2 separate regions of the Homo sapiens genome follow, and region 1 is linked to region 2. Evidence: fine-mapped expression QTL. A gene starts in region 2. The other region holds a variant in brackets. All regions are shown on one strand. Distances are between the middles of the regions. Region 1 holds the start of LOC124903726 (a long non-coding RNA gene). Region 2 holds the start of MON1B (MON1 vesicular trafficking associated B).

What was found. PIP is the estimated chance that this variant, and not a neighbour inherited with it, causes the effect.
Region 1: its variant is fine-mapped to the expression of MON1B in thyroid (GTEx, PIP above 0.99).

The regions. Positions count from the first base shown.
Region 1 is chr16:77,209,547-77,225,667 of GRCh38, reverse strand. SYCE1L (synaptonemal complex central element protein 1 like) reads right to left here. Exons shown (of 11, transcript NM_001129979.3): 7 at 14,392-14,455; 8 at 13,469-13,538; 9 at 13,299-13,386; 10 at 13,022-13,094; 11 at 12,453-12,811. The coding sequence ends at 12,737. It overlaps LOC124903726 (a long non-coding RNA gene), which reads left to right and starts at 13,537. Exons shown (of 2, transcript XR_007065121.1): 1 at 13,537-13,639; 2 at 13,737-14,081. It also overlaps the pseudogene VN2R10P. RefSeq lists enhancers at 5,083-5,192, 12,457-13,430 and silencers at 12,508-12,557, 12,588-12,677, 12,788-13,117, 13,178-13,537. The variant G/A (reference allele first, on the strand shown) is at 6,829.
Region 2 is chr16:77,182,443-77,198,563 of GRCh38, reverse strand. It overlaps MON1B (MON1 vesicular trafficking associated B), which reads right to left and starts at 7,374. Exons shown (of 6, transcript NM_014940.4): 1 at 7,306-7,374; 2 at 6,931-7,088; 3 at 4,787-5,113; 4 at 3,410-4,229; 5 at 2,882-3,029; 6 at 1-456. The coding sequence starts at 7,078. The coding sequence ends at 256. LOC124903725 reads left to right here and starts at 7,998. Exons shown (of 1, transcript XM_047435021.1): 1 at 7,998-8,656. The coding sequence starts at 7,998. The coding sequence ends at 8,342. RefSeq lists enhancers at 1,335-1,504, 7,223-7,272, 7,293-7,582, 6,708-7,656.

The DNA of each region.
Region 1 (16,121 bases), 27 kb before region 2:
CCTCCCTCCACCAAGTTCCTATCCTGACACATGGGGATTATAATTTGAGATGAGATTTGGGTGGGGACACAAAGCCAAACCATACCAACAAGTGTGTTTCTGATGCTTATTACTTTTGTTCTCTAGCCTTTCTTCAGATGAATAACTGTACTGTTGAGATTTTCCTCTAATTTGCTCTTCAGGACTCTCTGGAGAGTGGCGATAAAGCTTGGCCCTGCTAGGGCTCCAGGGGAGATGTTCACAGGTGTTTACAGTGTGTCTTTCACATGATGCTTCTTTATCCTGATTGACAGCCTAATGCCTGAGTCTGATCCATAGCCAGCTGTCTCTCTCAAAGGAAATCCAGCAGACACGCTTTGTGGCTCTTGTCTGATCTGTGTCCAGTTTATTTCTGCCAAGATAGCCACTCTCTAGGAGAGCGTGTTGTAAGTGATAACACTCCTGGAGCCCCTGGACCTTGCATTTTGGTTTCCTATTCTCCTTATGTCCTAGTTAAGGTTCAGGTGTGCCAGTCAGGAGAGACAGAAGGAAAATGGGAAAACGAAATGCATGACATGAGAGATGACCAGCAGGAGCACGCCTTTATCAAGGTCTAGGGGCTCCAGGAGTGTTCTCACTTAGGCTTTCCACAGGGGGTTGTGAATTTGCTAGTTTAAGGAAAATACGTGTGAGAAAGGGAACTTACCTACACGACTCTGGTGTTGGCCACTGGGTTTTATCACAGTCAGCAGCTGTGGGATATGTTGGGTTTGGGTTCAGTGGGATGAGGAACAAGTGGGCTATATTGCAAACAGCCACATGGGGAGAGGAAGTTTTAACTAGACCAAAGGTGACAGGGTACAACTGGACTTCAAACAACTTATGTCAGGCCTAACAACGGATGCCAAGGCAGCAACTGCATTAAACAAGTTTATGACATAGACATAACCCAGAAATGGTCATCTCTATGCATACGCTTAGCTTGCATGGGAATAGAGATAGAATAATTGCTACTTCATGATCCACATCAGAGAAGGAATTGTTCTTTTGATAGAACCTATTCAAATGTATGTTGACTTTCTGCTTGGCATCTTGGAGCAATAGGAAGGTGTATATTTCTATTGCTGGAAAGCCCTCTCGATCTCACATTCAATCACCAGGTGCATGCAGGCCTAAGCCCCCTTTGGGGTGTGTAGGTAATCTCTATTTCCATGCCAGCACTGGCCTAGTTACAGTACTAGGAATTCGTTCTGAACAACTGCAACATTTCTGACTTCCACCTCCTTCTAGACTCCCAGGGCTGTCAACAAGTCGTGTCTTTCATCCTCATCAGGTCCTTTTACATTCCCACAGCAAGAAAGGAAAAGCAGCCCATGATGTATTTTTTTAACAAGCCACTGGGGATACCCTGGAGCCAGTATTAAAAAAGCACGCCTGGCTGAGCACGATGACTCACGCCTGTAATCCCAGCACTTTGGCAGGCCAAGGTGGGCGGATCACTTGAGGTCAGGAGCTCGAGACCAGCCTGGCCAACATGGTGAGACCCCTGTCTCTACTAAAAATACAAAAATTAGCCGGGCATGGTGGCACACACCTGTAATCCCGGCTACTCAGGAGGCTGAGGCAGGGGAATCACTTGAACTCGGGAGGCGGAGGTTGCAGTGAGCTGAGATCACACAAGTGCACTCCGGCCTGGGTGACAGAGCGAGACTCCATCTCAATAAATAAATAAATAAATAAATAAATAAATAAATAAATAAAAGCATGCCTCAAACTTACTCCAGCCAAACGCCAAAGGAGCTGGAGAATTTATGCACAGTAAGAGTCCTATCAAGGGAGAAAAACTATGCAATAATTTGAACAGATAAAGTTTAAAATACATCATTATTAACTAAAATGGGATATTGGGGCAGTGAGGGGTTCACTAGGAAAAAGCAAAGAAAACTCTGAAGCATACAGAAAGAGCCGACCTACGCAGCAGCTACTGCCTGCAGGGCTGAGCTGGAGCGTCCAAGGGAGACCCTCTACCCACAGGGTGAGGTCAGGTCCTAGTTGGACAGGTCATGGCTGTGACTCACTGAAGGGCAAAGAAGTTGCTGTAGTGCTGCCTTTGTAGAACTTTCTGGAAATCTGCCCTCTAAACCTTGCCAGAAATCCATCTTCTGAGGTGTTGGGGAACGTTGTTCATGGAGAGGTGTCTCACTAGAGTCACTGCTACAAAACTACCAAAGATGGTGTCTTGGGACGCTGCTGGCTGCCATGCGCTACAGGAACCTGCGCTGGAGAAGTCGTCCACCCTGCAGAAACCTACCTAGCCGGAAGACCAGAACCAAAGCAGAAACGTCTCCCTGGCGCCCTCTACTGAGCAAAGCTTAACATCGTGTCAGCTGGCAAAGGAAACTGTTTCAAGGGCCTGATCCATTTTCACAAGGCAGGTGGTAAAGGTGAATTTGGAGCTGAGAGGCAATACATTGTTAACTGGCATATACACCCAATCCTATCGGTCAATAGATGAAGACTGTTCTGAGGCTTAGGGAGGCAGAAATTCATTCTGCAACACTTCTAGCCCACCAGACAAATAGGCCAGGCATACTTCAGCATCCATGTCATGGAAAAATGTCATGGAAAGGAATTTATGTCCTGGCAGATGGAAGCCGGCCTGGCGTGCAATGAGGTGTAAGACAAGTGAGTACAGGTAGGCGCTGACCCTATCTGCTAGAATCAGTATTCCATTTTCCACCTGCAATAAGATCATGATTGTGTTCATGCACAAGCAGGCCAACCCCAACCAGAATCCCATAGGAAGATGTGTTTCCTGGCACTTCTCCTGGTAGCAAGATTGTCAGTCAGGGTCTAATCAGATAAAAAGATAGAATTTATTTAAAGCAGAGGGAATATAATTGCAGGTGTGATTGTTAATTTTAATGTGTCAACTTGACTGGGATAGGAGACAGCCAGAGAGATAGAAAAATATTACTTCTGGTTGTGTCTGTGAGGCTGTTTCTGGAAGAGAGTAGCATTTGAATCAGTCCACTAAGGGAAGAAGACTCACCCACACCGGTGTTGCGGAGCATCACCTCATCTATTGAGGGCCCATCTAAATAAGACAAAAAGCCAGAAGAAAGGTAAATTGACTGTCTTTTTGAGCTGGGACATCCATCTTTTCTTGCCCTCAGACATCAGAGCTCCTGGTTCTCAGGCCTTCAGACTCCAGGGACTTAAGCCAGTGCCTCCTTCAGTCTCAGAGTGGGAGTTATACCACTGGCTCCTCTCTTTCTCAGGTCTTCCAACTTGGACTGAATTACACCCTGACTTTCCTGGTTCTCCAGCTTGCAAATGGTATATCGTGGGACCTCTCGGCCACCATAGTCACATGAGCCAATTCCCATAATAATTCTCCATATATGTGTGTGTCTGTGTGTATCTTTTTGGTTCTTTTCCTATGGAGAACCTGGACTAATACAGCAAGGAATTGCAGGTGCTGGAGGATCTGAGAACCAAACATGTGAGTAGCAGTTAAAAAGAGATTATCATTGGGAGGCCGAGGTGGGCAGACCACTTGAGGTCAGGAGTTTGAGACCAGCCTGGAGAACATGGTGAAACCCTGTCTCTACTAAAAAAGAAAATACAAAAATTAGCTGGGCCTGGTGGCAGACATCTGTAATCCCAGCTCCTTGGGAGGCTGAGGCAGGAGAATCACTAGAACCTGGGAGGCAGAGGTTGCAGTGAGCCAAGATCATGCCACTGCAATCTAGCCTGAGTGACTGGGAGACTCCATCTCAAAAAAAAAAAAAAAAAAAGAGAGAGAGAGAGAAATTATCAGGGAGTCAGAGTTAACAGTGCCCAGCGCCTGGGATCACTCGATGGAGGCTGCAAGCAGAATAGATTTGTCTAGGAGGAGGTAGAGCCACTGAGAAAAAGCCACCATTATTCTAACACTGCTTCCTTCTGGATGACTCCACTCACAACCCAGATGGCTGGAATCTTAGGCAATAGAGCTTACAGGGGAAGGGAAAGGAATGCCCGTGAAGGCAAACAATCTCCAAACTGGAAAATTAGGCAAGATTGTTGGCTGAAGACACTGGGTTATGTAGGTTGTTATTACATAAAAAGGAAGAGAAATGCCGCATGAAAGATTACATACATTGAAGAAAAAGGCATGGATGGGAAATGTCCATAACATTCACACTATGAAACAGGATAACTGAGAGTGGTATTGCTCTTAATTCCTTTAAAGACATGAGACTGACTTTATCTTCGGAGGTAGTGAGTTTGATTCAATTATTAACTTGCATCTGATTGTGATAATAGTGAATTTTTAAATTCAGGATGTCGCCTCTTTTTTTTTCCCCCTTTTTTGAAATAAAACTCTGGAATTCTTACTGCTTCCAGAACCTATTTTAATCTTCAGACCTTGGAAGGTATTCATATCTCATAAGAGTAACGTAATATATGGGGGCAAAGATGCAGCCAAGTAGCTCAGCACTGAAAGCTAAGATGAAGAAGAACCCCATGGCTTCCAGGACCTTCCCCTTGATGCTGTGGTCGGCAAGGAGGGAGGTGACTGCAGAACACCAGCATGCTGAACATCAAGAACTTGACTTATTGAAGGTGTCAGGCAAACCCATGGCCAGGAAAGCCAAGGTAAAGCTCCCCAGGGTCAAGGAGCCCAGGTATCCTAGGACATGGTAGAAGACAGTGCTGAAACCTCACTGCGTGTGAGAACTACAGATCCAAGCTTAGAGAGTGTGTCTGTGTCAATGAAGGGAGGAAAGTTTCTCAGCCCGAGCTGACAGATCAGGAGACAGATTCCACTTGGATTAGGGAGAATATAAAAAGGGCAAAATTAGGAGATCCTGATACCAATCACCATCTTATTCTCCCTGGCATTCTGGCCTTCAGAGCCAGAACTACAGTGATGGTTTTGGTCAGAATGATAGAAATAGCCATAGTAAACACAACTCCAAATGCTATTTGTTGGAGTCACCACGTAGCTGTGTGGGGGTGGCCAATGCATAGGGCAGAGCAGAGGAAGCACAGTGTGACGGAGGCCAGACTTTCAGCAGGGTGCAGCTGAAAGCCCATGTACTGGCTTTAACCGAGGGGATTTCCTGCTGCTTCACAAATACCCCAAGGACCACTGCAGTAAGGACAGAGAGGCAGGGCTGTGCAGGCCAGAGACATCCCCAAAGGGCCTTCAAAAGCCAAGAAGTTCACATCCTTTGGAAGACAGTAAATTCTCTGACTATTCTGATATTGATCATCTGGACACTTCTTATACTGAATAGTATCTGAAAAACAAAGCAATGGTTTTTTGTTCAAGATTCATAAATCCTTACTGATTCCCAGAAACAAAAAAGTCATTTTTGGCCTTGTAGGGCACCTTGTCCATCTCAGTGCTATACTCAAATGTCATGCTTTTTAGCATGTTACAGAAGCAATAATTTCAAACTAACATGCCAATTCTCTCCTTGGTTTTATTTCCCAAAATAACATTTTCTCTCATTGTTCATTTCTCCACATGCCAACGAATTATTTTCCATTTTCTTTCATAATGAAAGCATTATACTCCCTTAAAAATTTAAATATCCATTCTCTAGGCCAAGAGTCCACAAACTATAGCCTACAGGTCAAATCTAGCCATTAGTAATTTTATAGGGCTTATAATCTATGAATGTTTTAATACTTTTAGATGGTTGCATTTTAAATGGTTATACAAGTATTTACATACTTTCAATTTCACCTCTTGGCTTGCAAAGTCTAAAATATTTACTATTTGGCCCGCTAAGAAAAACATTTCCTGACCTCTGCCTTCTCCTGGATTATTTACACAAATGACAATTATTTTCTAAGAATTTACACTGAACCAGATGCCTTATTAAGAATGGGGACCTGTTCAACTTTTAACAGGTATCAAAGAGGCCCTCAGGTTCTAATAGCTAAATATTTCTTAGTGTATCCCTTCCACATTTCGAGGTAGAATTCCATCAGCTTGATGTGGCAGGAAAGGTCTTAATCATCTTGTTTGTACATAGGTTTCTGGCCTTATCTTTTGTCATAAACTAAACACTGGATCAAAAGATTCTGATGTAGAGATTTATGTATCATACTCACAGTGCTCATGCCTTCTCGCTTTGCCATGACCTTCTTCAACAGGGAGTTTCTTTTGCTCTCTTCTTTGCTTGACTAATTCCTACTTGCCTTTAACAACGTAGTCAACATTACCTGCATTAGGATGTGCCTGCATGCCTCCCCACACTCTAGTATGTACCTGTGTCTTTGAACCCTTTGTCCTGGGTTGCCTTCCTCATTAGGCTATGAATTATCAATGACAGTATAGTTTTATTAAACAAACCCTGAAAAATTAGATACCTAAATAGACAGTCAAGTAAAGAAACATACGAAGAAAAATATTCCTAAAAATACATTTATTGTCCGGGCGTGGTGGCTCACGCCTGTAATTCCAGCACTTTGGGAGGCTGAGGTGGGTGGATCACCTGAGGTCAGGAGTTCAAGACCAGCCTGGCCAACATGGTGAAACCCCATCTCTACTAAAAATACAAAAAATTAGCTGGGCATGGTGGCAGGTGCCTGTAATCCCAGCAATTCGGGAGGCTGAGGCAGGAGAATTGCTTGAACCCAGGAGGCAGAGGTTGCAGTGAGCCGAGATAGTGCCACTGCACTCCAACCTGGGCAACAGAGTGAGACTCAGTCTCAAAAAAAAAAAATTACTGTAGCAACATTATTATCAGGTAAAATAGAATTCAAAGAGATATACAGAGGAGAAGAACACATAAAATAAAAATTAGGCCAGGTGCGGTGACTAACGCCTGTAATCCCCGCACTTTG[G/A]GAGGCCAAGGCAGGCGGATCACCTGAGGTCGGGAGTTGGAGAACAGCCCGACTAACATGGAGAAACCCTATCTCTTCTAAAAATACAAAATTAGCTGGGCATGGTGATGCATGCCTGTAATCCCAGCTACCCAGGAGGCTGAGGCAGGAGAATTGCTTGAACCCGGGAGGCGGAGGTTGTGGTCAACTGAGATCACACCATTGCGCTCCAGCCTAGGCAACAAGAGTGAAACGCTATCTCAAAAAAAAAAAAAAAAAAAACTAAACAGATAAAACAGACTCTTTTCTCCTTTAGAAGGCTCAATATAATGATACTAATTTCCTGCATGTTAATGTATATATTTCATTCAATACAAATATCAAATAATAATAGGGGTTTTTTGTTGTTGTTGCTGCTGTTTAATTTTTTTTGAAACAGAGTCTCACACTGCCACAAGGCTAGAGTGCAGTGGCGTGATCTCTGCTCACTGCAACCTCCGCCTCCTGGGTTCAAGTGATTCTCCTGCCTCAGCCTCCCTAGTAGCTGGGACTACAGGCTTGTGCCACCACATCCAGCTAATTTTTTGTATTTTTAGTAGAGACAGGGTTTCACCATGTTAGTCAGGATGGTCTTGATTTCCTGACCTCATAGTCTGCCTGCCTCTGCCCACCAAAGTGCTGGGATTACAGCTGTGAGCCACTGCGCCCAGTCAGGTTTTTTGTTTTTTTGTTTTTTTTTTTTTTTTGGAAATAGACAATATGATTCTAGAGTATGCATAGGAAAGAAACTACCCTTGAAAAATTCTGAAACAGTAGGAAAATATAGAGGAGGTCTCACCAAGTGAGTTTCATAATATTATTTAAGGGTATAATAATAAAAAGTTTGGTATTTGTGTATAAATAGGTAACTAGATAAAGGAATAGAATAAACAGTTCAGAAATTGACCAAAATAGACATGATTATTTGGTATATGGCGAGGATGGCATTGCAGTTGGGGGGATACATGTGCTATTCAGTAAATTCTCTCCAGATTATGTACAGACACAAAATAAATTCCAAATAGTTCAAATATAAACTAAATTATAAAAGCATTAGGGCCCGGGAGCAGTGGCTCACACCTATAATCCCAGCACTTTTGGAGGCTGAGGTGGGTGGATCACCTGAGGTCAGGAGTTTGAGACCAGCCTGGCCAACATGGTGAAACCCCGTCTCTATTAAAAATACAAAAATTAGCTGGATGGGATGGTGGGTGCCTGTAATCCCAGCTCCTCGGGACGCTGCTACAGAATTGCTTGAACCCAGGAGGCAGGGCTTGCGGTGCGCCGAGACTGCACCACTGTACTCCAGCCTAGGCAACAGAGCGAGACTCCATCTTACTAAATAAATAAATAAATAAATAAATGTATTAGAAACGGTGACTTAACATATGGTGGGCAGGAGGGTGGGCAAGTGGTCTCTTCAGGGCAGGGTCCTCGCTAGTGCTGTGGGCACCAGAAGGGGAAGAACAGCCATGTGCTCTCCTCTGGGTAGTAGGATACTGAAATTGGGATATTTTGGGGTGTATGTTTTTTGAAGCTTTGACTGTGATTTTTAAACAATAAAATGTTCTAAAAATATAAAGGTAACCACTGAGAAAGATATTTAATCTCAGAGTGGAAGAGAAATTTATAGGTAATGGGCATTTTAGATAATGTAGGTTTAATAAGACTTTAGAAATAAGAAGACACACGGAAAGTAAAACAGGCTTTCCAAAAATGAGGCACAAAATATAAAGACAATGACTCCAGAAAAGAAGGTCATTAAATGCCTACTGGCTTTCATAAGATACAATTGGAAGGAATCTTTATAACTCTTAAATAGGTCTGATCACAGAAGTAAAACATGACTGCACACACTTGGAAGAAATCAATTAATTTTAGCAGGGCATGGTGACTCACGCCTATAATCCCAGCACTTTGGGAGGCCAAGGTGGGTGGATCATTTGAAGTCAGGAGTTTGAGACCAGCCTGGCCAATATGGTGAAACCCTGTGTCTACTAAAACTACAAAAATTAGCCGGGCGTGTTGGTGGGCACCTGTAGTCCCAGCTACTTGGGTGGCTGAGACAGGAGAATCGCTTGAACCCGGGAGGTGGAGGTTGCAGGGAGCCGAGATTGTGCCACTGCACTCTAGCCTGGGCGACAGAGTGAGAGTCCATCTCAAAAAATAAATAAATAAAAATAAAAAAAGAGATAAATTAATTTCAGAGTTAACACCAAGGAAGGACTACAAGACAAAAAACAGGCACCTAGGCTATTCAAATCATCTCCATCTAATAATGACTTGATAATGAAAGGAAGAAGAATGGAACTAATGTAATCTTTGGGTAAATGTTACTCAAGATTCCAATGAGAAAGATGCTGGGTAGGATTACGGTGAGTAATAGGTCACAAAAACAGAGTTTGAGTTTTGTAGGAAAATGGAAAATGAAGTCTAGGTACTTGTGAATTTTGTAGGTATGGCAAATATGTTAATTCTGCCACTGACCAGTCCCTTAAAACAGCTGGTAGATCAGCAAATAGAATATGCACGGACCTCTCACTGTTCTACTCACTGGTTAGCATCACTGCTTAACAAGATCCTAGAATGGAGAAAAGTAAGAGCTCAATATCCAGGTTCCCAGGAAAAGGTGGCCTGGGATTGTATTCACCTGTACTTGATGTTTTGATTGCTGTCTGAAATCTAAATGAACACAAAATTGAGAGATCAAAAAAGAAATGGTGGATGCCTTTGATTCTCTGAAACGTAACATGCTACATGTCCTCAAAACTTTATGAACGGCCAGTCAGGGTGGCTCACGCCTGTAATCCCAGCACTTTGGGAGGCCAAGGCGGGTGGATCACTTGAGGTCAGGAGTTTGAGACCAGCCTGGCCAACATGGTGAAACCCCGTCACTACTAAAAATACGAAAATTAGCTGGGTGTGGAGGTGGGCGCCTGTAATCCCAGTGACTCGGGAGGGTGAGGCAGGAGAATCCCTTGAACTCAGGAGGTGGAGGTTGCAGTGAGCCGTGATCTCGCCATTGCACTCCAGCCTAGGCAACAAGAATGAAACTCCATCTCAAAAAAAAAAAAAAAAAGGGAATTTAAGTAACCTAACTGTGTAACCTGAAGTTACACAGCTAGTATGCAGCAGAGCTGGGATTCTAACAAACACAGTCTGGCCCTGGGTTCTGTTCTGCTAACTAGTGTGCTCTATTAGGTAGTAATATTATTATCCTCCGGGAGATTCTACTGCAGTCACTTTGGCCACTCTCTCTTCCATGCCTTGTCTAGCTTGCTACTCAGGATGTGCTATGTTTGCATCTCTTCGGGCCCCTCCTCTGACTCCTCTGTTTTTCAGTGGGTTTCTTTCTGGCTTACTTTTTTCAAGAATGTCCTGGCCGGGTGCGGTTGCTCACGCCTGTAATCCCAGCATTCTGGGAGGCCGAGGCGGGCGGATCACGAGGGCAGGAGATCGAGACCATCCTGGATAACACGGTAAAACCCCGTCTCTACTAAAAATACAGAAAAACATTAGCCGGGTGTGGTAGCGGGCACCTGTAGTCCCAGCTACTCTGGAGGCTGAGGCAGGACAATGGCGTGAACCTGGGAGCCGGAGCTTGCAGTGAGCCGAGATGGCGCCACTGCACTCCAGCCTGGGCGACAGAGCGAGACTCCGTCTCAAAAATAAATAAATAAATAAATAAAAATAATAATAATAATAAAAAGAATGTCCTTCCGCCTTTTGGCAACACTGAGCTCCCCCAGGCTCATTCACATTTGAACCTGAACTACAAGCCAAGAAGCTTGAGAATTATGGTAATTGAATGCAAGCCCTGAGAAAAGCTGTTACAGGAAGTGAGTGAAGACTTCCCAGGCAGCTGTCAATTATTTCAATGAAAGGAGAAGTAGCCCTGCCAGGAAGGTCAGTTGAGTCAGGAGAACACAGGGCAAATCAAAAGCCAAAGTCTCGCTCTGTCGCCCAGGCTGGAGTGTAGTGGCGCCATCTTGGCTCACTGCAACCTCCGCCTTCCGGGTTCAAGCAATTCTCTGCCACAGCCTCCTGAGTAGCTAGGATTCCAGACACCTGCCACCACCAAACCAAGGGGTGTCACCATCTTGGCAAGGCTGGTCTTGAACTCCTGACCTCGTGATCCACCCGCCTCAGCCTCCCAGAGTGCTGGGATTACAGGCGTGAGCCACAGCACCCAGCTGGTCACTGCGTTTTAGAGACATTAAGCAATTTGCCTGAGGTCATCCAGCTGGTGAACAGGGAAACCAGGACTCGAATCCTAGGTGCCCAGTGGTAAATCGGCAGAATATCCAGGCTGACCCCATTTGTGTGACACAGAGAGGATGACAAAGAGGATACTGAAGTTCCTTAGAGATTCCTGGAGACTGGCCTTAGCAAGTAGGTGGTGTCAGTGGGGCAGGGGACCACAGCCTGGGCCTGGAGTCAGCTCTGCCCGGATGCGAGTGGTGACTCGGGGACTAAAGCTCCCTGGGCCTCATCTGTGGACTTGGGATAATAATGGCAACAAACGTGAGACCCAACGTTTATTGAGGGCTTACTGTACAGATTCACTATCTCAATTTTCCTCATCGCTAAATTGGGAATAACAGCAAGAATAGCAGTGAGAATAATAAATGATAGATACCATTTATTGAGCATTTATGTTATAAAAATCTCTGTTCTGAGAGATATACACACCTTAGTGTTCCTCATCTGTAGCCTGGGAATAATAATAATAAATCATATGAACCACTTACTGATCACTTAATGGACAGAAGCCTCTGATCTAAGTGAGTCACACATCTCAGTTCCCATTCTCTAGGGACTGGGAATAGTGAATCATCCCAACAATATGTGAGAGCTGGCATTCACTGAATACTGACTGTGTGCCAGGTCCTCTTCTACACACATTAGATAGTGTCCAACTTGACTGGTCCTTGGCAACTCTCCAGTGTCGTCTCCCATCCCACTCTACCTCATTCCACTCTACCACGCCGGCCTTCTCCAGACGTCTCCTCAAACACAGCGAAGTGCAGCCTCACCTCCCGCCTTGGCATGAGGCATGTCTTCTGCCAGGCCCACCTTTCCCCAGACACCCACAGGGCTCACCCCCTCGCTTCTCTACCTCGCTTCTCCGCTCAGATACCACTTCCTAGGTGAGGCCGTCGCTGACCGCGCTGTTTAAAATCCAGTGCTTAGAACAGTGCCTGGTACCCAGCAGGCAATCGGCAAATGCCTGCTTAGTCAGTACATGCTCAGTCAATGGCCGCAGCCTGCTGCTGGGTGCCTTTGGATTTGGGTCCCAAATGCCGGCCTCCAGAGTGGCGGACACATTTAACAGATCTGAGGTTGCCTGGGGGATGTGACCCCAGAGAAGGACCAGTAGGGCGAAGGCCCCGAGGGGACACGTGTTTTGGAATGTTTGAGACGGGTGGAGAGGCAGCCTTGGCTAGAACCCAATTTGTGAGGGGAGCTCAGATGGGCGGGCATGTCCCAGAGCCAGCGCGAGTCTGCGGGTCTTGCAGAGACTCTGGGTTTCCTGAGACCACCGGAGACGCACAGGCCCCGAGGACCGGAATGGGTTAACACCTGCCCTCCGGCCCCTGTTGACAACATAGATGGTTTGGGAACTCGAGATGAGGCCGTGGGGCGGGGGATACTGACACCCACTTACTCTCTCTGAGTTCAGGAGCATTTACCCAGCCTCTGTACGGCGCCCGGGGCTCGACTGGTGGGAGGGGTCCGGCAGAGGCCCCGCCTCGAGATCCCAGCACGCCCCGCCCCGCTCCACGGTGTAGCACAGACTCCGCGGAGAACGCGAGCATGGTCGGAAATCATCGCCTTTATTTCTTGGCGGGTCTCGAGGGAAGGTCGGGAACGGGCGGGTCCTGCTGGCCTAGAGGGCGTCAGGGGCAGCCACCGGCGGCTCGGGATCCTCCTCGTCGCGAGCGCGGGGGAGCTCAGGTCCGGCCTGCCGGGGGCTGGGTGAGGCTGCGGACCAGGTTCCTACGCTCCTCGCGTCCGCCCGCGTCTGCCCTAGGCCTCCACCGCGGCTTCCTCTGTCCCCGGGGCCGCCCTGCTCCCCACAGACCCCACTCTCGGGGGCCGCTCCCAGGACCCCCGCCCGCTCTCTCCTGACTCGGTCCCTGCCCGCCCCGCCTCCCTTCCTCGGGCTCCCTACCTCTCCCTCGCCGGCCCCGACCTCGGGGGCGCTCCGGACCTGCTCCCCGAATATCTCCAGCTCCGCCTTCAGCCTGCGGAGAAGGGGCCGAGGAGACAGGAGGAAGAGAGCGAGAGTCCAGGGGACGAGGAGGAAGCCACCGAGACGCGGAGACCCGACGACGCCGAGGGAGGCACAGGCCGGGGAAGCGGCAGTCGGGGGCGGAGCGGGGGACCTGGGCGGGTTCCCCTCCGCCCTGCCCCTGCCCTCCTCGCCCACTCCTCCCTTCCCCTCTCACCCGTCATTCACCGCCATGGCGCCCTCGACCTCAGGCGGCGAGTGCAGCCGCCGCTCCACCTCCCGCAGCTTGGCGCGCACCAGCCTCCCTGTCGGTGGGCGGGCGTCAGGGGCAGGGCCGAGGCCCGGGCACATCCCCCTCCCCCCGCCCACCTGGCGCGGGAGGCTCACTCTCCGAGAGCAGCTGCTCCTTGCTTCTCTCCAGGGCACGGATCTCCCGGGCCAGTCGCTGCTCCAGCATCTGCGAGGACAAAGAGGAGGCCTCCCCGTTTGGCCGTCCTCTTGGCTACACGGCCCGCCCCTCCCCTTTTGTGCTTCTCGCGAAGTCTTCACCTACATTAGGTCATTCATTCATTCAACTATTTATTAACTCAATGTGCAGTTCCTGCTGTGGCTGGAGACCCACCCACCTCCCCCTAAACGCTCTCCATGTCTCCAGGCACCTCTCAAACTTGAACTCTTCCCACTCTCCTCATCCTCCATTCCCCAATCTGCGGCTCCTCAACGGTTTCAGGCACCGTCCAGCCCCAGGGCCTTCCTTCTGCACCGATACCTGCACGGCTTCTTCCCTCACTTCCTTCACCTCTGCGTTGAGATGTCACTTGCTTAGAGGCCTTCCCACTGAAGTTCCACGATCTAGCCACTAACTTTCTTGGTGCCTCCACCGTCCCCAACCAGCTTGGGACAGCAAAGACGTGGACTCTTTGATCTGCTACCCTCCCTCCCTGCCTCAAATGCTGACCGGTGCAACCACTGACATTAGCTAAATGAAGGAATGACCTGACCATGGCTTTCCCTGGGCTGCCATTTGCCACTGCAAGGTGAACATACACTAGATGAGCAGGGGGAAAGCAGGATCACAATGGTACTGCACCCGTCTGGGCAGGTGATGCTGGGTGTGGCAGTGGGGCATGGTGAGGCGTAAGTTGATTTTAGATAAAAGCTGAGGGACTGAATAGGTGGGCAAGCGGAAGCAAGGAATCAAGGACTATCCCGCGGCATTGAGCCTGGGCAGGGGTGGACTCTGGGCCAGTCAGTGCGACACTAAAGCCAGGGAGGAGTGGCTTTGGTTGCAGGCAATGATAATGGCTCACGTGGAATTCCCAGAGGTCCTTGTGCTGGCCCATCAGATCCTCCAGCTGTCCTCTGACATCCAACCTGGAGGCCGACACCCAGGAATAAGAGAACACATGCTAGGCCTGACACCCTGTTGGGGGCTCCTCATGCACAGGCCTTCAGATCCTGCCCATGCTCCCTCTGCTGGGAGCCCCTTCATGGGTTTTATCCTCTAAGCTTTGGTTCCCGTAGCACCTCTTCCAACAAACTCTCCCTGATGCAAGCCCTGTTCCCACTTTCTACACAGTGGCCTGCCAGGCCCCAGGCTTGGGAGTTACCCCAGATTCCTCTGTTTGAGACTCTGAAACCTGAGAATTATGGGCAAAAATTTGTTCCATGCACTCTTGCAGCATGTGCTTCCTGGGAAGGGAAAGACAACCCTCAGTCATATTCTCTGAATGACCCATCATTCACTCCAGCAGGAGTGGGAGTTGGGATGTCTGTTCACAGCATTCACCTTTCTTGTTTCTCCTGTTGAATGAGAACCTTCATGGGCCTCTGTTGAGAACATTACCCTGTCCATCCTGTCCCCCATGGAATGAACTCTGCCTTCCCAAGAAAGCTTTGTGAGGCGTGTGGTAATTTGGCACCACAGATTCTATAACATCCTGGCTTGAACCCTAATCTGTTACTTCACCGAGACCCTGGCCAAGTTACTTAACCTCTCTGGGTCTCAGTTTCCTAATATGTAAAATGGTGGTAGTGATGGGAGGGTGACATTAGCCTTAACTCCTATAATTATCATTGTGAGGATTAGGTACATAAATGAGCATAAATGCTCATCATACAGTGTGAGTAGTGTGGTTGAGTATCACACATTAGCTAACATCAGGTTTCCCCATGCAATTAAAATCATGGTGCACCAGGATGAGAGACCTCTGGTAACAGGAGTGTGCTAGGTAAAAGTTCAGAAGATGTCGGGTGTGGTAGCTCACGCCTGTAATCCCAGCACTTTGGGAGGCCAAGGTGGGCAGGATCACCTAAGGTCGAGAGTTCGAGACCAGCCTGACCAACATGGAGAAACCCCATCTCTACTAAAAACACAAAATTAGCCGGGCATGGTGGCACATGCCTGTAATCTCAGCTACTCGGGAGGATGAAGAGATGGATGGATACAGGTTGGATAGACAGTTGACTGGATGTGTGAGTTGCTGGCTGGAGAAATGATAGCTGATTGGAGAAATGATGAGTAGAGGAATAGTGGCTGGACAGAGAAAGAAAGGATTGCTAAAAGGAAGGGTAGATGTCTGGATGGATGTTTGGCTAAGTGAATATATGATGGAAAGAATAAAGAGAGGATGAATGCATGATTGGATGGATGGAAGATTGTTAGGTGGAAGGCCGGAGATAAAACAGCCATCTGGCTGGATGACATGGTTGGATAGATGGATGAATGGATGAATGAGTGAGTAGGTGAATGGCTAGATGGGTGGATAGATGAATGGGTGGGCAAATGGATGACTGGGGCTTAAAATAAGGAGGCAAATAAGCAAGTGAATGGATATCAAAGGAGCTGGATAGCCAACAGAAAAAGACTGAGGCTAAGACCAATGGAGGGAATATATTTGATAAAGAAATTAGTAACGAATAATTAAATGAGTAAATTAATCTTAACACGACCATTTAATATCAGAGATAACCAAGGAAATCTTTTGTCAGGCTGCTCTATTTTATAGAAAGGTAAAATGAGGCTTCTGTGTCCAAGATT
Region 2 (16,121 bases):
TGAGACAGAGGGAAGGGAGAGGGAGGCCTAAGGATTTCCCCAGAGGGGGAGGTGCATGACTGGGCAGGGAAAGCAGCCTGCTCGCCTGGCGGCTGCCACCATCTCTCTCATCGGTGGGCCCTCAGACCTTGCCCCATTGCTTAGGGAGACAATGACTGGCCACAGACACACCCCCACACACATTTCCAGGGTAGACAGAAGGTAAAAAACAAAGGTGGTTGCTCCCAGCACTGCCTGGTCTGGGAGCTCCAACTATCAGAGTCCAGTGAACAAGCCATTATGGGCAGCTTGGTCCGTAGAGGTGGCTGGTGGTGTGGAGTACTTGGGTGGGTAACGAATGAAGAGCCGGTCCTCCTCTTTCTTCACCCAGCGCAGGAGTTTGGTCACTACCAAGATTGCACCTGCCTTGGTCACCAGAGGGCTGAGGCAGGTATAGAGCTCGAATTTGGAGGTCACCTGGGGGTTTCGGAGGAGACAGAGTCAGATGGGCCAGAGCTGGCTATGGACAATCCTGCCTACCCCAGTGCAGCTGCATGTCTGCCTCCTGCAACCTGGAACATGTACCTGGCAGCACCTCCTACCAGGTGCTGCCTAGATACTGGGCTAAGGTAGGTAAGCTGATATTGTGCAATTTCAGCTGGACCTAGTGACTTCAACTGGATGATGCTGGTTGTGTGTGTGGGTACTCTCTAGACCTGTTTGCTCATTGGGAACTGGGGAAAACAGTAACAATGTTTAATATTCTGTCAGTAACCTATTGTGTACAAGGTCCTGCTCTAAGCTCCTACAACTATGTTTTCATCATCTACAGCCAGGGAATAATATAAAGAGGAACTCAATTTATGCCTCATACCACATGGAGAGGCCTGACCCCACAAGGTCACTAGCGCCTTTCCTGTGCCACCTCCCAGAGCGCTCCCCTTCACTCCCTCTGCTCCGGCCACTCTACCCTTTCCTTGCTATTCCTCAAACATAGCCAGGCTTGGTTCCACCTCATAGCATATCAGTCCTTTCCCTCTGCCAGGTGTACTCTTCCTCCTAATATCCACGTAGCTCAATACCTCCCTACTCCACTCAGATGCCATCTGCTCAGGGAGGCCACCCTGATCACTTGGTTTAAAATTCTGCTCCTAACATATATTTTGTTTGTTTTTGTTTTTTTGTTTTTGACGTAGAGTCTTACTCTGTTACCCAGGCTGGAGTGCAGTGGCACGGTCTCGGCTCACTGCAACCTCCGCCTGCCAGGTTCAAGCGATTCTCCTGCCTCAGCCTCCCGAGTAGCTGGGATACAAGCGCATGCCACCACATCCAGCTAATTTTTTGTATTTTTAGTAGAGATGGGGTTCCACCCTGTTGGCCAGGCTGGTCTCGAACTCCTGACCTTGTGACTCGCCGCCCACTCCCCCCAACTCCCACCCCGACTCAGCCTCCCAAAGTGCTGGGATTATAGGCGTGAGGCACCGTGTCTGGCCCATATCTTGGTTTTAAAATTCCAATCTCTACTAAAAGGTATAAGGGCTCCATGGAAAAATGGCTGAGTTGAGGACTGGAATAGAGAAAGTCAAGTAAGATGTGCTCACATAGTGAAGGGGACGTGTCAGAGACACAGGGATCAGCCTGGCTAAATCAGGGTACCCACCGGCTAAATCAGAGGCAATCTGAACACCAAAATAAATGCTAGAGAAGGATTTTAGCTCACTGAATTAAAGAAAAATCCATGAGACAATATTGATAGAAAATTAAAAATTCAATAAATAGGAGAAGGAAAAGTTATTCCTTTTTGTTTTTGAAATGGAGTCTTACTCTGTCGCCCAGGCTGGAGTGCAGTGGCGCGATCTTGGCTCACGGCAACCTCCACCTCCCAGGTTCAAGCGATTCTCCTGCCTCAGCCTTATGAATAGCTGGGACTACAGGTGCGCACCACCACGCCCAGCTAATTTTTGTATTTTTAGTAGAGACGGGGTTTTGCCATGTTTGCCAGGCTGGTCTCGAACTCCTGACCTCAAGTGATCAGCCTGCCTCAGCCTCCCAAAGTGCTGGGATTACAGGCGTGAGCCATCACGTCCGGCCCCATGTTACTCTTTATAGTAAAATCCCAGCCAATAAATGTAGAAAGAATGATGGAGTTAGGAAAACCACCATCTGACCAGGCGTGGTTTTCACCACGCCCTTTATAACTCTTTATAAATATAAATATAAAAACTCTTTATATTGTTTTTGCAGCTTCTAAGTCTAAAGTTATTTGAAAATGAAAGTTAAAAAAATTTAAAAACAAAATTCTTAGCCTAGGACAATACCTGATCCACAGCAGTCACGCAATAAATTAATAAATATGCATTACATGGCAGGTGCCATTTCTGATGAGGCCTCCTTCACTGGCCTCCCTTAGTAGCTGACCTTTAGCAAACCCATAGGAAGTGAGGGCTGGAGCCCAGAGGAGACCAAAGGGAAGGATACCCCAGGTGGAGGGCACAGCAAGGGACCACGCCTGTAGTCTGAGGAGTGCTGGGGACTCATGGAGTCACAATGAGCTGGTGATGAATGGGGTGCCTCCAAACACATGGATTGGGCTACTGGGGAATCGGCAGGCACAGCAGTGGTAGTTAATGGGGCCTCTGGAAAGTCAAAGACACTGTCCTGGTTGCTAATCTGGGAGAAGCACACAGGAGGGTGAGGCTAATGTCGGATTAGAGACACGGTCATTAGTTGTCAGGGGCTTCAAAGATGTGTGTGTAAAGGCAGGGACAGTGTTGCAGGCAAGGCACAGCCCAGCCAGAGGCCTGCTGTGTTTGGTGGAGGCACTGTGGCTGGAGGGGATACAATATAGGGAAAGGAGGCTTGAAGTGGGGAATTAATTCACTCAGAGCCCTGCCCAACTTACCCAGGCCAGTAGTGTCTCCTTCTCAGCCACGTGGTAAATGAGGCGCAGGGGTCGGGAGGTGCTGTGGAGACGAGCATGCAGGCGGTGGTACAGGTCCGACAGCCGCTGCCGCTCCTCCTCTCTGCTGTAGGGGGCCTCTAGCTCAGGGCTGCCATGATGGAGGGAGGTGGAGGACAAGGTTAGTCCAGGGCCTTCTTGGCTGGCCCATTTCCTCCCTCAGTCTAGAGATTTCAATGAAGTTAGGGAGCTGAGCCTCTCCCATGAGACTTGAGGATTCTCAGGGGTTGGAGGCTGACCTTCCCTCATCAAACTAGGAGATTCCCTGAGTACTAGGGCCCTGCTGTCCACCAGAAGAGGGGGATTCCTTTAGGTCTGTGGCTGATGCTCCATCATCAGACAGAGACTTGTTCTCTTCCCTCTTTCTTAAGCATGGCTGGTTATCTCTCCTGAGTCACATCCCTGAGATGCTGAACTTCCTGGTTTGACAGGCCTTCCCACCCAGCCAGTTGCCTTAGGGTCAGGGCCTACCTGGTAAACTGGGGCAGTTGGCGGTGGTGGTCAGGGATGTCCAGCGGCTTATACAGGAAGTGCCGGAGGCCCGGCGCCCCGACAGCCTGCACGCTGTAGGCAGGAGCACTGGCTGATGAGGCATTAGAGAAGCTGGCAGCCTCCCCAAGGGCACGCATGGCACCAAGGGCATGCATCCCATCTTCAACCAGGCGCCGGCAGGCGGCCATGGCATGGAAGGCTTCACGTTGGGTGCCAAGCAGCAGCAGGCAGACAGGCATAGCATCCAGGCGGGCCACGTAGGCGTAGAAAAAACCATCAGGGTTGAAGCGGGGCAGGCACACAGGTGCCCAAGCCTCACCCGCCGCAAAGGCTGGTGCACCCACCCAGTCGAGCAGCAACTGCAGGTCAGCTGGGTCCAGCCGGCACTCGGCCAGCACATTTCGCTCCTGGGCTGCTGTTATAAGTCGACCGCCTACTGCCAGCACTGACAGCGCCAGGCCAGGCGCTGTGCAACGTCGGAGGAGCGCACCTAGTGCGTCTCGCAGCGGGCGGGCAAGGGGCACACAGCGCACGGCACCCAGGAGCAGGGCTCCTGGGTCCTGCTCCATACTGTCCAGAAGTCGGTCCAGTGTGCGCTCTGAACCAGCCAGCAGGCGGCGGAGGTCATAGTTCTGCTTGTGTGCGAAGATGCGGGCGACACTTGCACGTGTAAGTGTGCTCACGATCTGTGCGTGCACAGCTAGCAGCTCCCCCCGCAGCTGGGCTGCTGACTGAGAAGTCCGTGACATGGCCACGAGCAACAGTGGGCCCTGTTGTAGGAACACCAGCTTGTGGTCCTCTAGGGAAGGAAGGGGTAAGAAGGGGGGGTACAGCTGGATCAGGAATGACCAGAGGGAGACAGTGGGGCTCTTCTGCCCTCTCCTACCATACACACACCAGGCCCGAGTCCACATGCTCACTCTGTGGGCACCTGGACTGGGGTAAGGACAAGCTGGAGGAATCTGGACATTTGCAGAGACATGATGGGATGGACAAAGGAACAAGTAGGTTAGATACACAGCAAAGACCACGGGCAGGCGGGTAGAGATGGTACAAGGGCTGACACAGAGCCAGAAAGACACAGCTCAACCACACAGCCCCCACAGTTATCCTCTCAGGTGACACAGAAGTATCCAGCTAGTCACTGAGATCCCAGCAAGTCAATCACTAAGAAACCAGCAGGCCAGACAGAGATGAACCCCCCCACCTCCCGCCACTGACAGAGCTCTGGCTGACCATCCACACACATGGACCCAACCCTGGCTGGCTGGATAGTGCCTGAGGCAGACAGACCTACCCGTGCCAGCCATATTCCCAGTCACTGTCCCCCATTCTGCCTCCCACCTGTTTGCTCACCAGCGTAGATGGCACGGATGGCATCTCCCGCACTCTGCACAAAGGACACCAGGGCGGTCATTACACCCATGGTAGCCGACAGCGCCTCCACACTACCATACCGCGAGTAGATGGGCTTGCCAGCCTCACTCAGCACAAACACATGCTTCCGCTGGCTGCGCCACTCCTCATCACTGGGGTCCCCGCCCTGGCCTCCAGAGCTACTCTCAGGGCTACATGTGGGACTATTCTCAGGGGCTGCAGGACTCCAGAGCCGAGAGGTGCTTGACAGGGCCTCTGACTGGGGCGGTGGTGATGGGCTGGGTGGCTGGTCCTTGTCCTTGGATCCTGAAAGGGAGCCCCTGGTGGGTCATCTGCATGTGAACTCCTAACTAATCCCACATCCCCAAGGACCCACCAAATATCTACTAGCCCCTCCATGACCCCTGCATGCTGACGCAGAACTCCAAGTGTCTCCTATGCCCCTCAATGACCCGATGACTGCCCTAGGACCCCGCAATGATCTCCACTAACATTTAGGTTCCAATGAACTTCCTAAAACCCTAATAAACCAACATATTCTCATTGTTATTCCACTGGACTTGCTATGTTCCTACAGACCAATTACTTCCCTTTCAATCACTGTTATTCCAAAGTCTTCAAAGCACCCCATTGACTCTGGATGACGATTATTCATCTTCAATGATCCCCCATTAACTCCTCTGACCGCTATTTTTTCTCCTGATATCTGCTCACCCAATGGCCACCATTAACATCTATTAATATCTTAACTGTTTGAATGCCCCAACCCCCGCTACTACCCTATCAGTGATGCCCACTGATACCTGATGACCCCTACTAACTCTCCTGGTTGCCCATTTATATTCTTGGTAATGTCCACTATTTCTCCCAATGACTGTCGTTAATATCCACTAACACCCAGATATTTAGGACTCCCCTAATCCACTATTCACTCCCACTGTGGTTCACAAACACCCCAATGACCCCACATTAACAATCATTAACACCTGGTTTTTCAATGACCCTCCATGACTGCCCTGATCCACAAGTTATTCTACTCCATGTCTACTCCCCCCTACCCCCAACAATGACCATCATTAACCTCCACTAACACCCAGCACTTCAGAGACCTTCAGTCACTCCCCTGACCACCTTCAATCTCATTGGTATCCACTCCCCTCCCTACAGTAACCATCATAATATCCACTAACACACAAGACTTTAATGACTTCCATTGCCCCTACCCATGACCATCATTAACATTCACTAAAACCCACAACTTCAACAGCCCCTACTGACACATCCATTTATTCCCATTGATTTCCATTCATCCCCCAATGACAACCATTATTATCCATGTGCAACTATGTCTCAATAATTTTCCCATAAAATCCCAATAATTGCATATTCTGTCACTGACATTCACTGACACTCCCATGTCCCCAAATATCTTTACTCCCTCCTAATAACTGCTCTTACCTGCTATTAATTCCCAAGTCCTCAACCTCCCCATCCACATTTATTCTCAGTGAGGTCCACTGATCCTTCCCAATGACTCCATTTACATCCACTAATTCCAAAGTGATCAATGGCACAGACTTCTCAGTGACTTCCATTAAATCTCAAATGAACAACTTTACACATCCACTAACATTTGGTCCCTTAAAGACTTCCCCAACAGTCTACAAGTGACTTCAATGATGTAAATACTCTGAGTGCCCATCGAACTCCACTGATTCCCCTTCCCACTTCTATTATTTAATAAATAACACCCTACTCCTCAAAAACACTAACTTCTCAACAGTCCTCCTCTGTTGAGTCTATTGACTTTCTTCAGCGCATTCTTTGATCTAAACACTCTAAATCCTCAGTGACCCTCTTTGGTCCTAACAGCCCCCTTTTTGATTCCTCAATGACCTAAACTCACACCAAACCCCCAGTGAACATCCGTTGACAGCCAATGACTTCCTCAATGATGTAAACTACACCATGTGTCCACAGTGACCTCCTCCTGACCCGGCGATGGTTTAAGCCACTTCTCTTAAGTCCCAAGACTCCCTACTGGTCACCCACTGACCCTTCCCCCGTCCAACAATGACAACCCCTAAGGATTCCTTTTAAGACCCCACTAAGTGGAGTCATACCTGTTTCCTCCAGGCCCTCGTCTTCGGGATCCGGCGGGACCGCGTGAACCCCTCCACCTTCTCTAGCTTCCTCACTGGGGAACTGCGTGTCCTCCAAGTCCTCCGCGCCCCCGGGGGCCGGGGCAGCAGTGTCTCCTCCGACCTCCATCTGCACATCCCTGAGTGGGAGGGGAATCGAGGGTGACGGGCGGTGAAAGAAACTTCTGAAAAGCCTTTATAGAGTCAGGCCCCCTTGGACACACTCCTACTGCTCATTTCCCCACGGATTTCAATAGGACGAGACATCCAAAATCATGCCCAAATACGTCCCCCCTCCAACACTTTCCGAAAAGAGGAGACTCTACTGGGCCTCAGGAAATAGAGATATACAAACACCTGTTTTAACTCCGAATCTCAATTGGCCGGATACCATTACTTCCCCGTAGCGGCGGTGGCATCACACTTCCGGGTGCGGCCCGGGAGGTGCCACACTTCCGGGTACGACCCCTCCCAGAAGACACTTCCGGTTGCGGAGCTTTATTGGCTCCTCGCGGCGTCCCTCTCCCGCCGCCTACGGGTGTCCCCTCATAGTTGAGATGGCGCGGGCCACTTCGGATCTACGTCAGGTCTGTTCGGGAGCGCAATGAGACCTCTCTGCACTCCTTTCAACGGATCTGGCTACGGCTGCTAACCCGGGAGAGCGAGGCCCACTTCGCTTACCAGTGGTTGGCGTGAGGGGGGACGCGGCTCGCTCTAGCCAATCCCGGAGTACATAGGGCGCGACCGTCTTCTTTCTGGGCCAATCGAGATGAGCCGCCTCATTTCCCCGCTGTCTACTCCCCCCGCCAAATCCTAACCAATACTGTGCGTTGTGTTGCGTTTGCACACGCCCATCCATTGATTGACGTCTCCCTCGACCCAATCGAAGACTCGAGCCTATTCCTTGTTTCACAAGAGGACTTTTGCAGCGTCAGTCCCGATGGATACCTGTGCCGGACCCACAAACGGGCTCTCCCAGAACTGAGGCAACTCCACTTTCTCTTATCCCTTAACCCTGCCAAGAAAGTCAAGGGAGGGGAGAGGCGCGAATGCTTGACGGGCAGTCGCCGCTTCTAATCAGCGTGCCGCGCCAGCAGCTCCGTACCCTGCCGGGTTCCCACGTCTACCTGCAGCTGGGGGAAGAACTCTGCCAGCCCAGGGCAGGGGCGGGCACTCACTTGGACCAGGACCTGCCCGACGCCCCCGGTCCGCCGGGCGAACGGGTCGTCACTTTCTGTGATCAGTTTGGGAAAAGGCTTGGGGGCCCTGCCACGGGCCAGTGTGGGAACCCAGGGTTCGAATTCCCGCCCCGACGCTGCTTCCGGACCGAAAGCCCCCTGAACGCCTTGCCCCAAGTGCCCTGGGCCTTGGTTTCTCCATCAGTGAAACAATGATGGGAATCGCTTGACGTGAAGTGAGTGGAGGTGCTGGCACACTTCGAGTGATTGCTAAGGGGAAGCCTTTGGTACTAGTTAGGATAATTATTTTAATTACAGTATAGTTAGGGTAATGAATTCCAAATACCAGTGTAGCATCATGTGCTTTATATACAATAGGTAATCGATAAGTAATAAATATTAAATTTATATAACAGAAACAATGGATAAATTTATGTGCATACAAAATATATTTACCTAATACATTTAGAAGTATATAATATATAATAAACATGTAAAAAAGTACAATAAAATAACATCTCATAAGCAAACTTATTTATTAATCTCGCTGTGTTACCCAGGCTGGAGTGCAATGGCAAAATGTTATTGACTCATTGCAGCCTCCGTCTCCCGGGTTCAAGCAATTCTCCTGCCTCAGCCTCTGGAGTAGCTGGGATTACAGGTGCCCGCCACCACGTCCGGCTAATTTTTGTATTTTTAGTAGACATGGGGTTTCGCCATGTTGGCCAGGCTGGTCTTGAACTCCCGACCTCAGGTGATTCACCCGCCTCAGCTTCCCAAATTGCTGGGATTACAGGAGTGAGCCATCATGCCCAGCCCAGGGCTACACACTTTAAACAACCAGATCTCGCAATAACTCCCTCAGTCACTGTCACCAAGAGGATGATGCTAAACCATTCATGAAGGATTCACCCCCAAGATCCGATCAACTCCCACCAGACCCCACCTTCAATAATGGGGATTACCATTCGACATCAGATTTCGGTGGGAACATAGATCCAAACCTTATCAGGGGAGTAGAGGAATAGTTACGCCTTCATCTAGCTTTGTCAATCTGCATTTTTACCTCAGAGGAAGCAATCAGATATGCATTTGTTTCAGGTGAGCAGAGGGATGACTTGGGGTTCGCTCCTTTGTCTCGCACCTGTGAAGATAAACTATCAATTTACGTTGTCAGGGTAAAATTCAACAGAACCGTTTTAGGGTAAAGATCTTGCAGCCCACAAGGAATCCCTAGAGGGCAAATTATGAGGGAAGTATGTAGCTTTATCTTTGTAAATATCTTATTTAGGGATAAACTGGGAGGCAGGTTTGCCTGATGCAGTTCCCAGCTTGACTTTTACCTTTGGCTTAGTAATTTTGGAGTCCTGAGATTTATTTTCCTTTTACACCTGCCTTGTATTTCAACAAAACCATATCACAATTAGGCTCCTTTTAAAAATTCTTGCTGATGTGCTCTGTGAACTTTAAAGATTGTTTTCCAGGGAAAATGGCAGAACTAAGAACAATTGTCACACAGTCTCTTATCTGAAACCCTTAGTGCCAGATGTGTTTTAAATTCACACATTTTCCTGATTTTAGAAATGAAATTAGGTGCATGTGCCATGTATTATATAGAGCCCAGCAAGGGACTGGGAAACACCTGATAACTAAACTCATTTTTTCTGAGTGAAACTTTTTATTACTCCCAGTAAGAGAAACACTAAACCGTCTTATGTTAGTTTAGTTCAGGTTTTACCTCCAAGTGAGCTTTTAAAAATTATTTTTCTGGAGCTTTTTGGATTTCAAAACTGCAGACGTAAGTTTATGGAGCTTTATTAGCATTCCGTGTTTGATGATTTGCCACTCTAAACAATTTCTACAATCAAAGATGAGAGATGGGAACAAGTGAAGGAACATAGAGCCATCTCTGGTGTGTCTGCCTTTTTTTTTTTTTAATCAGAAAAGCAAAGACCAAAAATATCTCAACAAACCTCTCCAGTAGATTTTAAGTTATGGCTCATGGCTTGAACTGCAGAGTGTTTACAAATTGTAGACACACACACAGACACAGAGTTTTTTTCTGTTTGTTTTTTTAACAGATCAAAGATGTCTTTGTGACATTATATATGTTTATACTTCCTGACTTTATGGACACTGTGTAAGTCCCAGGTAATCCCAAGCTACAGATGAGTCTAAGAAAGGACGTAAAGGAAAACACAAAATACTGCCTAGGACTTAAGGACAGGAACTCAGTTAGACCCTCATGTTAAGCCTGAGCTTGATCTCTTACGTACCATTTCTGTTTGATAATAAAGCGTCCAATGTCAGGCTGGGTACAGTGGCTCATGCCTGTAATTCCAGCACTTTGGGAGGCCGAGGCGGGCAGATCACAAGATCAGGAGTTCGAGACCAGCCTGGCCAACATGGTGAAACTAAAAATACAAAAATTAGCAGGGCGTGATGGCAGGTGCCTGTAATTCCAGCTACTTGGGAGTCTGAGGCAGGAAAATCGCTTGAAACCAGAAGGCAGAGGTTGCAGAGAGCCAAGATTGCACCACTGCACTCCGGCCTGGGCAAAAGAGTGAAACTCCATCTCAAAAATAATAATAATAATATTAATAAAATAAATAAATAAAGCACCCAACCTTATAGCTAGGTGAGTATCCAACACCCAGCCCATGATCGAAATCTCAGGCTGTGCAATCACCTGACATCCCATAGTTAGGTGCTCATTCTTTACCAAGGCCTGGTCCCAAACCTGTTCAAAAGAAGAATCATTAACTACAGAAGAGAGGATAGATTTATTTCAAAATCTTACACATCTGTGTAGTGTTTTTTTTTTGTCCTATTGTTGCTTGCCAGATGCTCTGTAGAGCATCCTTATTTGCCATGGACAGTTTGACAATCTATGGGTCTGCTGGATCATAAGCCCCAAGTGGTGGATTAGCTTAACCTGCAGTCTGAACTCACTTTCTTTTGTTCTTCTCACTTGAAATCTACAGGTAATTCTGTAAATGAGTCAAAGTCACACACTGAAATGTGGTATGTGTTGCTTCCAAAATCTAAAAGACTTTTACTATTGTGGATAAATAGTAAAGTATATTTTCTCATTTAAGAATATAATTGACTTATCTAAATGCAAAACCGATGTATTGTGGGGTTTATAATATTTGTAGAAATAAAATGTGTGGCAGCAATAACACAAATGACTGAAGTTATACATGATAGCACATTACTTTAAGGCTCTCACATTTTACATGAAGAATTATTATTTGAAGATATATTGTGAGGAATGAAAGAAGCATTTTGTTGACATGGGGAAAAAAATACAGAAATGCCAAAGAAATTTAATGCCAAAGAAATAATAGGCCAAGAGTTGAGATAAAGTGGAATACTAAGTGTATGCCATCCAAAAGAAAGATGAAAAAGAGGAACAAAACAATAAAGAACAGATTGGACAAATAGAGAACAAACAGCAAGATGCAAGACACTAATTCAACTATGTTAAAAATTGCATTAAATACAAATAAATAGTAGAATTAAAACAGAGATTGTCCAACTGTATATAACATCAGGGCCTAAATATAGGCTCACTACAAGATCTCAATGTAATTATGTGGTCTGTAAAAATATAAATGGGCCAGGCGTGGTGGCTCATGCCTCTAATCCCAGCACTTTGGGAAGTTGAGGTGGGTGGATCACTTGAGGTCAGGAGTTCGAGACCAGCCTGGCCAACATGGTGAAACCCTGTCTCTACTAAAAATATAAAATTAGCTGGGTGTGATGGCATGTGCCTGTAATCCCAGCTACCTGGGAGTCTGAGGCAGGAGAATCAGTTGAACTTGGGAGGTGGAGGCTGCAGTGAGCCAAGATCATGCCATTGTACTCCAGCCTGGGCAAAAAGAGCGAAACTCCATCTCAAAAATAAATAAATAAATAAATAAATAAATAAATAAATAAACACCAACAAAAAAAGGGACTCCTGTAAATATACAAAAAAAAAGCAGATCATTTAAAAGTAAAATGTCAAAACATTTTAAACTATGAGATAATGCAGGTATTATAACATCTGAGGGTCTATGTTACTATCAGAAAAAAATACTTCAAAATAAGAAATATTAAAACAGGACATATCATGATGATACAAAGTTCAAGAATATGTTTTCATCCAGAAGACACAACAATCCTAAATATACATATATGAATGCAAAACTTCAAAATACACAAATGTCAAATTGACAGAAAATAAAGGAGAAATAGACAAATCCCTAATTATAGTTGGAGATTTCAGCACTCCATGCTCAGTAATTGACAGAACACTAAGGTAGAAAACAAGAAAGGGTATAGCTAATGTGAACAACTATCAGCCAAATCAACTTAATTGACATTTGTAAAAATACTCCTCCCAATTATAGTAGAGTATACATCCTTTTAAAGTGTACATGGGACACTCACAAGGTACAGCATATGCTGGAAGATAAAACAAGCTTTAATACGTTTTTAATAAGTAAAATTATAAAGAAGGTGTTCTTCGATTACAATAGAATTAAAATAGAAATTATTAACAAAAATATCTGTGAAATCTCTATTGAAAATTAAGACAACACACTTCATATTGACACGTGGATCAAATAATAAATCTCGATGGAATATTAGAAAATATTTTGAACTGAATGAAAATAAAGACACAACAAATAATTTGGAAGATACAAAGCAGTGCTTATAAGAAAGTGTATAACTACATGCTTATGTACATAGGAAGAAATGCCTATAATCAATAGTCTACATGTGAACTTTAAGAAGCTGGAAAATAAGAAGGAAATTAAACCTGAAGTAACTAAGAAGTAAGGGAATAATAAAGATAAGAGTGAAATTTGGTGAGACAGAAAACATACAACCAAAAGAGAAAATCAATGCAACAATATATATATTTTTCGAAAAGATCCATAAAATTACTGAAACTTTTGCTTAAATGATAAAACAGGAGACAAATTACCAATAGTAGGGCTGAAAGAAGGTAACATGATTAGAGATGGCATAGACATACATGGGTAGTAAGAAACTACTATGAGCACTTTAATGGCAAAAACTTTGAGAATATAGAGGAAAAATTACTGAAAGACGCCAATACAAATATTTATTCACAAGGAATGGAACAAACCTGAGGGCTCTATATCACTAAGTAAATTAGATTTATAATTAAAAGTTTTCCCATAAAAATTCCAGGCCTAGATGACATCAATGGTGGATTCAAATATTTAAGTAACAAGTATTACAAATGTTGTATAATTTTGTTCAGAAAAGCAAAAAAAGGGAAAAACTTTTCAACTTTATAATTTGATAATTACCATAATAATAAAACTATAGCAAACATTATAAAAATGAAAAAGCAGGTCAAATTTCTTCAAGAATATGGATTCAAAAATCTGTAGACTATTGAATTCAATATATTGACATATCAAAAGTGAAGAAGAATATCACAAAATTTGATTACTATTCATTAAAGACATTCTTATCAACTAGGAATAAAGGAAAATGTACTTAAGATGATGAGAACATGGAAGAAAAACCTGCAGTTAACTTTAGCCTTTATGGGGAAAGACCGACTACTTTCTCCCTAAGATTAGGGGAAAGTCAAGGATGTCTGTTATTGTCACTTTTGCTCAAGATTACATTGCATATTTAAAGCTAGTATAAATAGAAAAAAAAGAGAAATAAATAAAAACCCCTAAATATTAGTAATGAAAATATCTCTTTTATTCTGAAACAATATGGCATTGTATATAGACATTTTAAGTTATATACATGTGACTGTAACAAGGTTAAAGAATACCAAAATCAATTACATATGGATATACACACAGCAATAATACAGGTAGATACATACACACACACACACAGAAAATTAATGAAGGAAAGGAATATGGAATCTTAAAAGATAAATACCATATGCAATAGCATAAAAACTTAAAATACTTAGGAATAATTATAATGATATATATGCTTATATAATTATAATAATACATATGCCTTAATTATCCACTGTAAAATCATTTTTTTTTTCTGGAGGAACTTAGAAGATTTAGTAAATTGAGATATTCACTATGTCCAACAATTGGAAACTTCTCATTATCAAAATATAAATTCTCCCTAAAATTATCTACTGAATTTTACATAATCCTAATATAAAACCTAGAATGGTTTGTAAAGACAAATTACAAAATTATTTTGATATGAAAATGCCAGTATTTTAGAATAGCCAAGACGTTTCTGAGGAACAAAGATAGACTTAAACTACATTATTTTAATATTTACTGTAAAGCTAAAGTAACAAAGATCACGTATTGATGTAAATATAAATATATAGATCAATTTATCAAATCACACAGTCCTGATTTCTCCACACCTGTATGGTTCAACAAAGATACCAATCTAATTAATTGAAGAGATGCTAATCTTACCAACAAATAGAATTGGAACAGTGGACATTCACATGGAGAAAATGAACTGCAACCCTTATATAACACCATACAAAAATTTAATTTACAGTATATTATACAGCTTAACATAAAAGCTAAAATGGTATTTCTTGTGGAAAACATAGAAGAAAAATTCTACAATCTTGGTGTATATATAATGATTTATTCGTTTTGTCACAAAATCATGAATCATCAACCAAAACAATGAGAAACTGAACTTGAAAAATATGAAAATCTGCTCAAGACAGTGTTAGCAAATGAAAATGCAAGCAATAGACTGAAAAAATACCTGTGCGCATCAAATAACTTGTACCCATAATACAAAAATTTTAAAAGGACATATTAAACTCAATAATATGAAAGCAAACAATTCAATAAAAAAGATTTAAACAGAAACTTGATCAAATAAGACACAAAAGGCCAATAAGTCCATGAAAAAATGCTTACCATAATAATCAGTCCTAAAAAGGCACATTGTATCTAGAGTAAGAATTGACCACATACTAGCTAGAATTGCTAATATTTAAGAAAAACTTACAATACAAATTGCTCGAGGAAATTTGCAGAAACAAACTCTTCCCCATTGCTGGCAGGAATGCAAGATGGTGCAACTTTGAAAAATGCTTTGGTAGATTCTTATGAGGTATAAATACACACTCTTACTGCATGACTCACCCATTTTATTCTCAGGTATTTACCATGAAACATATGCCCACAAAATTATTTCTGCACACATGCTAACAGCAACTTTCTTTATAGTAAATAAAAACTGGAGAAAAGCTCCAAATATCCAACAAGAAGATAATGGACAATGAATTGTGGTATATTCATAATACTACTCAGCAATAAAAACAACTGAACTATTGATACGTATAACAACAGCATGAATCTCTAAAGTATTTTGCTGAGCAAAACAGCCAGATACAAAAAAGTACACACTTTTTGATTCCATTTGTAAGAAATGCTAGAAAAAAAATCAAATGTATTTTGATAGAAAGCAGACCAGTGTTTGTCTAGTGCAGGGGCTAGGGAGGACTTCAGCAAAGAATCACCAGGGAGGTTTTTTATTTTTGTAAAATTTTTTTCTGAGACAGAGTCTGGCTCTTTCGCCAGATTGGAGTGCAGTGGCACGATCTCGGCTCACTGCAAACTCTGACCTCTGGTTCAAGCGATTCTCCTGCCTCAGCCTCCCAAGTAGCTGGGACTACAGGCCAGTGCCACCATGCCCAGCTAATTTTTGTATTTTAGTAGAGATGGGGTTTCACCATGTTGGCCAGGATGGTCTCGATCTCTTGACCTCGTGATCTGCCCGCCTCGACCTCCCAAACTGCTGGGATTACAGGTGTGAGCCACCGTGCCTGGCCTATTTCTCTTTTATTTTCTTAAAGTGTTTGTGAGTGTATTATTTCTTTCGTAAGTATTCATTTGAATTCAGTTAAACAAACTATTTACATTGTAAAACCAATTCAATATGCAAAGTCTGTTTCTTTAATGATTTCCATGCTATTGAAATTTTGTATTTATTCTTGAGTGT